Regions from separate parts of the Homo sapiens genome. Here regions 2 and 3 are each reported to be linked to region 1. The links are microRNA targets in miRTarBase. Many come from high-throughput screens and were not tested one by one. Region 1 holds a microRNA gene; each other region holds the end of a gene's coding sequence.

Region 1 (3,000 bases):
AACATAGTACTGTAGATACCCATACAGGTTTTGTTAAATGAGTGAATGAGTGAGTGAGTGAATGAATGCTTTTCTCTAGAACAATTAATACTGAAAAGCAAATGTAAGCACAATGGAGAAAATGCCATTCCTTAGAATTCAAGAATGAGTGTGAGGGATAAGCCCAAGGAGTTTCACAATTATGGAAAGTCACACTCAGACAGTGAGAATAGAAGTGCTGGTTGTGGAAGGTGAAGACTCCAAGAGGAGCAACACAGAGGTGAGGAGATGGTACCAGCAAGACAAGAAGGCTGTGTGGTGCATAGTTGATGTGAATCTTCTTCACAACTTCTCAAAGCTTTAGTACAGTTCACACATGCTATGTGTTCTTGGATCCCTTGTGAAAAACAGCTCAATTCCTCTACAGCTTTGCATCCAGACCTGAGGCCCAGCAGAAGGTAAAAACATATAAGATGGACACAGAGTTCTGGAGGCAGAGAGTGGCATAAAGGTGTCAGGTGTGGCACTAACATAGAGGTCATGGCAAAAGTTAATCACATTTCCAAGGGCCAAGAAAGCACTGGTCAATAGAAATATGACAGAAAAGAATGAAGAGGGAAGCTAGGTGAAAGAGGTTTTCATACATCAACAGCAACATCACCTGGAAACAATTTTTGATTAGTTAGGCACTTACTAATTATTCCCTGCTTTTCTTTTTTTGAGATGAAGTCTCACTCTGTCGCCCAGGCTGGAGTGCAATGGCACAATCTGGGCTCACTGCAAGCTCCCCCTCCCAGGTTCACGTCATTCTCCTGCCTCAGCCTCTCAAGCAGCTGGGACTACAGGTGCCCACCACCACACCCGGCTAATTTTTTGTATTTTTTAGTAGAGACGGGGTTTCACACCATATTAGCCAGGATGGTCTCGATCTCCTGACCTTGTGATCTGCCTGCCTCGGCCTCCCAAAGTGCTGGGATTACAGGTGTGAGCCACTGCGCCTGGCCAATTATTCCCTACTTTTAAAATAAATTATAATCGTGCTGAGAGAATAAAAAAATTAAAGGAAAGAGTTCAGTGAGCCGTGATCATGCAACTGCACTCCAGCCTGCTCAACAGACAACAAACAAACAAAGTTATCATTCAAAATGTTTCCCATGGCCAGATGCAGTAGCTCCTACCTCTAATACCTGTAATGCCCGCACTTTGGGAGGCCAAGGCAGGAAGATGGCTTGAGTCCAGGAATTTGTGACCAGCCTGGGCAACATGGCGAAACCTCATCTCTACAAAAAATACAAAAATTAGCTGGGTGTTGTGGCACATGCCTGTAATTCCAGCTACTTGAGAGGCTGAGGTGGGAGGATCACCTGAGCCAGGAGAGGTCAAGGTTGCAGTGAGCCATGATGGTGCCACTGCACTCCAGCCTGGGCAACAGAGTGAGACCCTGTCTCAAAAAAAAAAAAAAAAAAAAAAATTAGACCAAAAAACAAAAACCCAAAAAGCCAAAATGCATCCAAGTATCATAAGTGAAAAAGTGAGCTTCTTAGCAGCCAATATGCAAAGGGAACATAATCTCTTACACAGTTTGGAATTACTCAGAAAACGTGGAACTGTCTTCAATCCTAAAGCGTCACATAGAAATGTTCCCTGAGTCTCACTGGGACAACACACTGAGCAATAGCTTTACCAGAATGTTTTGTGAATATGGTATGATATCAAGAGTAATAAAGTTATTTTGGAAAAAAATAACTTTAGAATAATCACTTAAAAGTCTGCTGTTTTTGACCATAATTGCACATGGATATATTGCCTTATATAAACTACAAAGAATTGTCTATTTCACATCACATTTTACAACTTACATTGCAAACCTCACTTCAGCCTTGAGGTACAACTATCAATAAAAGAAACAGGTCTTATTTTTAAAACTTTTTATTATTCATATCCTTGGTGACTTTCAGACAATAATTAACATGTGGTTAGTATCACCTTAATGGAGGAAGTACCTTATACTTCAAACAACCCTTACCAAAAGAACAGATAATACATATGTATTGATACAGCATTACAAATTGATGATAATTCAAAAAGGCACCATGTAGCTTGTACTTGAGAAGGAATTTTCCCTTTGCATATTGAAGGGGGTTCTGGTGGTGTTTTCTTTGTCCCCAGCCGACTTCACAATGAAATGTTTCTACTTTGCACCCTTTGGGTTCAGTTGTTCAACCAGTTACAATTAGTTAGATTAGTAACTGGTTGAACAACTGTAATCAAAGAGCACAGATTGACTTGTTGTGGTCTACTAGAGAGAGATTTGCTAGTGGTGTTCAGCAGGGCTCTGTCTGTCCTCTTCAATGTGTGCATGAATGACTTGAAGCAACATACATACATTCAAGAAAAATTCATTAAACATTGAATCATCATCTAATATTTGCCTGCTATTATGACAGGTCCTGAGGGAACCAAGAAAATGTCAGTTACATGGCTCTGATGCAAAGCTGGGAAGAAGGAGAAGGAGTCAGAGGTAGAGGCAGAGAGAGTAAAAGAAAGAGGGAGAAAGTGAGAAAGTGAGACAGAGAAAGAGAGGGAGGCCATGTTACACAACAGGAAATGTAACACATGACCTCCAGCTCGAAAAATTTGAATAAAAAGATATTTCAAGGAGTGCGAGGGAGGTAACCCTTACAATTATTAGAATGAACATTTACTCATTGTCAACACTATGGAGCACATATTTGGGAATTCACCTTTATTTATGCCACACAATATTATGTAGGTGACAAGCTAACCCGTCGTATTTAACAATATAAACAAAAACACAAATATCCTACTTTATTAAACTGAAAGCAGAGGACTCTCATCTCCCCAAAGCCCAGGCCATTCCCTGATATTAGTAAGGATACTAGGTGAAACTCCTTCTTTCAACATTTATTGTAATTAGTGAAAACATGCTTAATGGGACACCATCATCTACAATGATGACACCATATCTCAAATCACTAATCTTTCTGCCATGGACAGATT
Region 2 (3,288 bases), not on the chromosome of region 1:
TCTGGCTACCTTAGCTCTGTAGAAGGCCAGGGAGAGGCACAGGGCTGGGTGCAGGGCCCACGGCTCCTGCCACAATTCTCCCCCTACTCTTGCTCCTCTCCTCACCACTGTCCCTTCTCTCTCCCTCTCCAGGAAGGAGTGTCTCGTGAGCTCCTCGGGGAATGACAACACGGAGAACGGCTTGCCTGGCTCCAAGGCAGAGGAGAAACCACCTTCAAAAGTGTGAGCCCTGCTTCGGGCTGAGCAGCTGCAGGGAGCCCCCTTTCTGATGATGAAACTGATGCTTGAGCCCCGACCGTAGAACCCACGTGCCTGAGACATCTGCTGCTTGGCTCAAACTGTAGTCTTTCCGGGCACAAGAAACCAGAGTCCTGCCCAGCCTGCCCATCCCCTTCCCAGTCAGGGCTCCCCAGGGACAAGGGATGGCCAGGGGAGGGGGTCTGTGGAAGATTCAGGAGAAAGAAAGGAGAGGCTAGGGTGGTGTGGAGGGGCTGGTCCCCTGACACCTGGGCAGATGGGGTCTCCTTCAGTCTCCCTACCCTGCACAAGCAGGGCCTTGATTTTCCTCCAGGCTTCTCTTCACAAGAGACTGGGAGGATCCGTAAGGGATGTCCTAAGAGCTGCACCCTGGAGATGGGGTGTAGGAAGAAGTGGCTTCCTTTGGAGGTGGGAGTGGGCTGGAGGCCTCTGGAGAAGACCTGGGGTGGGGGCTGATGGGGGCAGGCCCACAGTGAGAGACTGCCTCTGCTTCATAGGATACCAGATCCCCCACAGTCTTCCAAGTAGGAAACTTCCTTTCCCCTGCCCCGGGACCCTATCTGCCTATCCCCTCCCCTGCTCAGAGTTTTTAAGCCCTCTCAACCAGGGCTGGCCACCCTGGTCTTGAGGGTTCCTGGCCACCTAGCCTGCTCCTCTGCTCTCTGGGTTACTGAGGGGCTCAGGAAGGGGCCCCTCGAGCCTTCCTGGAGTACCCGAGTGCTCCCTATGCCTTTCCAAGCATTTCTACTTGGGGAATTGGGCCACAGAGGTAGTGAGCCAGTGTCCTGGGCCTCTGGGATGCCCGCCCCATTGCTGCCAATGCTGGCAGCCCCTCCCCTGGCATGGCAGGACCATCGCCACTCTGGGCACTCCTGAGCCCAGCTCTCCCCTGCTTCTCCCCCTCCTACCTGAGAGGCTGCACCCTCCAACCTCCCATTGGCTCGCTCCCCCCCCCCCACCGTGCCCTCCATCACGCCCTGCCCCCAGGGTGGTTCATTTCCCAGCCCTGGGTCAAGGGCCTGCCTTCGCCTCAGGGACTCTCTTCCTTTGGATGAGGGGGTCCTTGGGTTTCCCAGCTGCTTCCTGCTCAGCTGGGCCACCCCCTCCCACCCTGGGGTTGGGGAGGAGCAGGGAGTGGGTGCCCACAGTTTTCCTTTGCTTCTCCCAGAGCTGGTTTGCACAGCCCTTGTGTGTGGGGCTAGAATGTGCCTTAGTCCTGAATCCTAGCCCTTACCCCCATCCTCTCTAGACGGTATGTCCTGACATAACAGCAGAGTCTGGTGTGGTGCTGGTGAGGGTTCGCCAGCCCTCCCCTCCCCAGGGTCATAGAGGGGGCCATGAGGCTGGAATTGGCCAGTGACTGAATCTTGGAGATGTCGGCCAGGTGCTCCCATTGGGGTTTCTAGCCTGCCCTAGGGGGAGGTGGTGATGTTGGGAGTGGGATCTCCTGAGTCCTTGTTGGGCAGAATTGGTGAGGCCAGGGATGGCAGGGAAAAGTGGTAACAAGCCTCTCTGCCCATCTACTTCCAATCCCTCTCTCCCTTACTGATTTTTTGATGCCCTGTCTTCTGGGCCCCTAGGAGGGATGAGAGAGGAGTAGCCCCCTTTTTCAGAGAGTTTGGGGTCTACCTCAGAGCTCTCCCTGTCAAAAAGCAGCTGCAAGCCTCGCAAGGGTGGAGTGGGGGGAGACTGAGGACCAGTAGTACCTGCAGGGTGCCCGTGGCTGTGGCCAGTGTCCCTTAGCCAACCTGCTGGGCTCACCAGTTCCCCGTCTGATCTGCCTGTGCGCCTCCCATTCTTCTCTACCCAGAACCTGTCATGGGCTGGGGCTCAGATTTTCCTGGCTTTGGGAGCAGACAGACCAGAGCCACCAGCCATTCAGAAAACTTCTTATAGCTACCTTCATGCAAAACTGTTTTCTTCTTCCTTCTCAATGGTGACATTTGAAGAGGCAGAGCACCTTGGGGCTCCTCCTTCTGTCTTAAGAGAAAGCCAAGGCACGTAGAGTAGGGAGAAGAAGGGCACCATCCTCTCTTTCCTCCCCAGGGTCTACTGCTGATTTCTAGATGGATCATGCAGCTTCTCTCAGCTCAGCTCTTTCCATCTACCAAATGGGTGTAATAATACTTACCTACCTCACAGGACTGTTGTGAGGCTTGGCAAGTTTTGTCTAAAAACATCTTTTTGGCTTGGAAAGGGATCTGGGAAGCCAGGTATTAATTGCAGGGATAGTTCCAAGTCTGTCCTGTCTTCATCTCTGTGTCCCATCTCTACAACCCACATACAGACACACACACTCTCTCTCTCTTTCTTTCCATCCCACCCCCCTTGGAATTATTTAGTCTTTGCAATATTAGAAACCTTGACTCTGATGCTTAAAGCTTCTTGTCCATGGCTTTTGTTTGATGGTTTTCAATAGAGGTGACTGAGATTGTAGGGGGGGCATTTTTGGTTGCCCCCATGCGTGGGGGCACTACTAAGAATGCTAAACTTAGTCCCCACAACAAAGAATCATCCTGTCCCATGTCAACATTATACCCATGGAGAAACACTGGCATGGATTTGCACTAGGATGTATATGGGCAAAGCTATCTTCCCCAAGTGGAACCTCAGTGCATGCAAATCTCTGATGGTGGCTTCCAGGGCTTGTGGGCTAGAGAGAGCCACTTACAAAGTCGATCTTGAGAGACCTGGCCACATGCAGCTGGGCTGAGTGATGTCAGCGAGACTAAAGACAAAGTTCTGAGCTCCTCATCAACTACAAAATATGAAATCAGCATTCCAGGTTCTGGGCTTCTCCCCATGTCGTAATTGAACAGAAGGCAGCCCGAATAAACCCCTGATGTTAGAGAGGCCTGGGGAGAGCAGCCGATGGGGCTCAGACTACATATGGCAGGCCGATCAGAGCTCTTGTGGAGCGAGGGCTTGAGAGCATGCTTGTGAGATGGCAGGAGGTGGGGTGTGCTTGTGTGGAGTGTGCGTGTGCAGGCAGTGTGGGTGCATGGCAGCGTAACTGTGGAGTGGATGGGC
Region 3 (3,000 bases), not on the chromosome of region 1:
AATGACCCCAGGTAGATGTGACAGGCTAGGATGAATGACTGAATTTAATGATGAACTTTGAGAAGGATAGACTAGTAAATTCTGTTCTTGGACCTGAGTACAGTCTGGGAGAAACATAATGTAGCAGGAGGTCTTATGAAAGAGAGTTAGGCATTCCAGTTGACTGAGTTCACTGTGGGATGTGACAAGCCACTTCCCAAATCAGTGCTGGGAACATGGCACTGTGCTTCACCTGCCAATCAGAATGCCCCTGGAGAATTGTATTCTCCTCAGGGCATTGCTTTAAGAGCACTACGTGTTCAGGAAACAACCAGAGAAAACCACCGTCAATGAGCACTGACTGTAAAGACTGACGTTAATAAACCAGAAAAAACTCAGGAAAGTGGGTGAGGGTGTGACCATTGCCTTCAAATTCCTGAGGGGCTGTCACCTTGAGGAGACATTATTTTGGAAGGCTCCAGTAAGCACTATGGAAAGAAGATACATAAAGGACAAATTTTGGCTTTGTGCATGAACTGTCTAACAACCAAAGTTTTTGTTTTTTTCGAGATGGAGTCTCGCTCTGTCACCCAGGCTGGAGTGCAGCGGCGCAATCTCGGCTCACTGCAACCTCTGGCTCCCAGGTTCAAGCGATTCTCCTGCCTCAGCCTCTCAAGTAACTGGGATTACAGGCACCTGCCACCACGCCCGGCTAATTTTTGTATTTTTAATAGAGACAGGGTTTCACCGTGTTGGCCAGGCTGGTCTCAAACTCCTGACCTCAGGTGATCCACCCACCTTGGCTTCCCGAAGTGCTGGGATTACAGGTGTGAGCCACAGCACTCAGCCACCAGAGCTTTTTTCAAACCGGAGGGAGTTGCTCATTCCTGGAGGTGTTTCAGCAAACTGACCATGTGTGGGACATAGGACGTCGCTTCATATGCTGGGTGAGGAGCTAGATAGACTAGGATTGTGATTCTCTGAGGTAAAAACCCAATCACTGTCTCCATCTCAAATTGCACTCTCTCTTGGCTGGCTCTGGAGACTGAGGTGATGGAGCAGAACCTTGTTGCTTCAGTACTGCCCTTTCCTTCTTCCACAACAGGGGAAAGATGAAACTGCGGTTCTCCACGAGGAGGCAAGCAAGCAGCAGCCACTGCAGTCAGGTGGGTTTAGCAGAAGTCTGTGCTGGGTCGGGGGAGTTTAGGGGACAGCAGAAGATACATAACCACTTCTGCCCCCTTTTTTCCCTTATCCCCAGAGCAACAGCTGGCCCAGTTGACACAACAGCTGGCCCAGACAGAGCAGCACCTGAACAACCTGATGGCCCAGCTGGACCCCCTTTTTGAGCGGTGAGGAGAGCAATGATTCTGTGAATTTTTGGGGAATTTGTGGCAGGAGGGAGGAATGGGGACATAGGTTGGGAGCCACTGAGTGGACATTTCTTCAGTGTGACTACTCTGGCTGGAGCCCAGCAGGAGCTTCTGAACATGAAGCTATGGACCATCCACGAGCTGCTGCAAGATAGCAAGCCGGACAAGGATATGGAGGCTTCAGAACCAGGTGAAGGCTCGGGAGGCGAGTCTGCTGGAGGTGGAGACAAAGTCTCTGAAACTGGAACATTCCTGATCTCTCCCCACACAGAGGCCAGCAGACCTCTTCCTGAGGACTTCTGTTTAAAGGAGGACGAGGAGGAGATTGGTGACAGTCAGGCCTGGGAGGAGCCCACAAACTGGAGCACAGAGACATGGAACCTAGCTACTTCCTGGGAGGTGGGGCGGGGACTACGGAGAAGGTGCAGCCAGGCTGTGGCAAAGGGCCCCAGTCACAGCCTTGGCTGGGAAGGAGGGACGACAGCTGAAGGTCGACTAAAACAAAGTCTGTTTTCATGATGGAGTGCTCCTGTGTGTTTTTTCGATCCTAGTTGGTTGTACACACCCATACTAGGTGCCTAAGGACAACTGGGCCTTCTTGAAGAGCTGTCCTTATTAGGACAAAAAGAGGCTGCCTTCCAGTGTGACAGCAGAGAAGATAGAGGGAGCTCCAGCTCTTTTCCTCGTATTCCTGAGGCCACCAGCATGCCCGCGTTCAGGGCCCAAAAATCCCTTTTCTCATAGCAAAACTGAGACAGAAGGGTCTTTCCCAAAAAAAAGAAAAAAAACTTTACTCAAATCCAGTGGAAAAATAAATGATAGAAACTATACACAACATAAAAATAGCCACATTTACAAAGCTGCAGCCTTGATAAATGACGGGCCATGGACACAGCACAGAGCTTATCAGTCCCAAATCCCCTCATCTGTGTTAGGGGCTGGTTCATTTGAGGTTTAGTTGGGTTGGACTTGGTTTCCTGATTCTTCTTTTTTAATAAAATTTCTTAATTATTTTTTCTTAAATAGAGACAGGGTCTCACTCACTGTGTTGCCCAGGCTGGTCTTGAACTCCTGGGCTGGAATGATCCTGCCACCTCTGCTTCCCAAAGTGCTGGGATTACAGGCATGAGCCACTGTGCCTGGCCGTGATTTTTAAGAGTTGGTCAGATGATCTGGAGTAGCTTGGTCCAGGCAAACAGAAAGTGACCTTTGTCAAATCATGAAGGGTTCTGTTTTGTTCAGTACTGAAGATTCCTTTGTACTCTTGGCTGTGACCTATCCCTGAGGTATCCTGAGTTCTGGAATCTATAAGATTCCTCTAGTTTTTCTGGCTGCTGTGGAGAGAAGACAGTCAGTTCAGGCACTGGTATGAGTGCTTTATTCAGACAAAATCATCTGGGGGTTGGTGGCTGGGGTGTGCCAGACCAATGTAGGGCATGAGACAGGAACTGCATATTTCCTGCTTGTGGGCCTCATCACAGCACCCTTCCTGGGGGAAGACACAACTTACCTGATAGCCCAAGTCAGACTGTGGTACCAGCGTGACAGCTCCTCCTGGTCTGTGGACATAAGCAGTAGCTTCTCATGAGGGAAGGACAGCTAGAGAGAGACCACCTCTTAGCGCATGGCTCAGAAAGGTCCAGGCTAA

What was found. Region 1 holds the annotated microRNA hsa-miR-582-3p (UAACUGGUUGAACAACUGAACC, at 2,188-2,209, opposite strand). A microRNA usually pairs through its seed, bases 2 to 8, with sites in the 3' UTR of a target mRNA and lowers its output. Matches are read on the target gene's strand: a 7mer-m8 pairs with bases 2 to 8, a 7mer-A1 pairs with bases 2 to 7 and ends in A, and an 8mer does both.
Region 2: miRTarBase lists SCN4B as a target of hsa-miR-582-3p. Seed matches in the 3' UTR shown: 7mer-m8 at 2,018-2,024.
Region 3: the mRNA of ARHGEF39 is a reported target of hsa-miR-582-3p. Seed matches in the 3' UTR shown: 7mer-A1 at 657-663.

What each region holds. Positions count from the first base shown.
Region 1 is chr5:59,701,443-59,704,442 of GRCh38, forward strand. MIR582 (microRNA 582) reads right to left here and starts at 2,261; the gene lies at 2,164-2,261. All of the region lies in intron 1 of PDE4D (phosphodiesterase 4D), which reads right to left.
Region 2 is chr11:118,133,965-118,137,252 of GRCh38, reverse strand. SCN4B (sodium voltage-gated channel beta subunit 4) reads left to right here. Exons shown (of 5, transcript NM_174934.4): 5 at 133-3,288. The coding sequence ends at 226. Among named protein-coding and RNA genes, the nearest start is that of SCN4B, 17 kb to the left of the region's middle.
Region 3 is chr9:35,659,317-35,662,316 of GRCh38, forward strand. It overlaps ARHGEF39 (Rho guanine nucleotide exchange factor 39), which reads right to left. Exons shown (of 9, transcript NM_032818.3): 8 at 2,863-2,951; 9 at 27-2,686. The coding sequence ends at 2,671. CCDC107 (coiled-coil domain containing 107) reads left to right here. Exons shown (of 5, transcript NM_174923.3): 3 at 1,085-1,145; 4 at 1,241-1,331; 5 at 1,430-2,195. The coding sequence ends at 1,871. Among named protein-coding and RNA genes, the nearest start is that of CCDC107, 2.5 kb to the left of the region's middle. RefSeq lists a silencer at 2,436-2,730.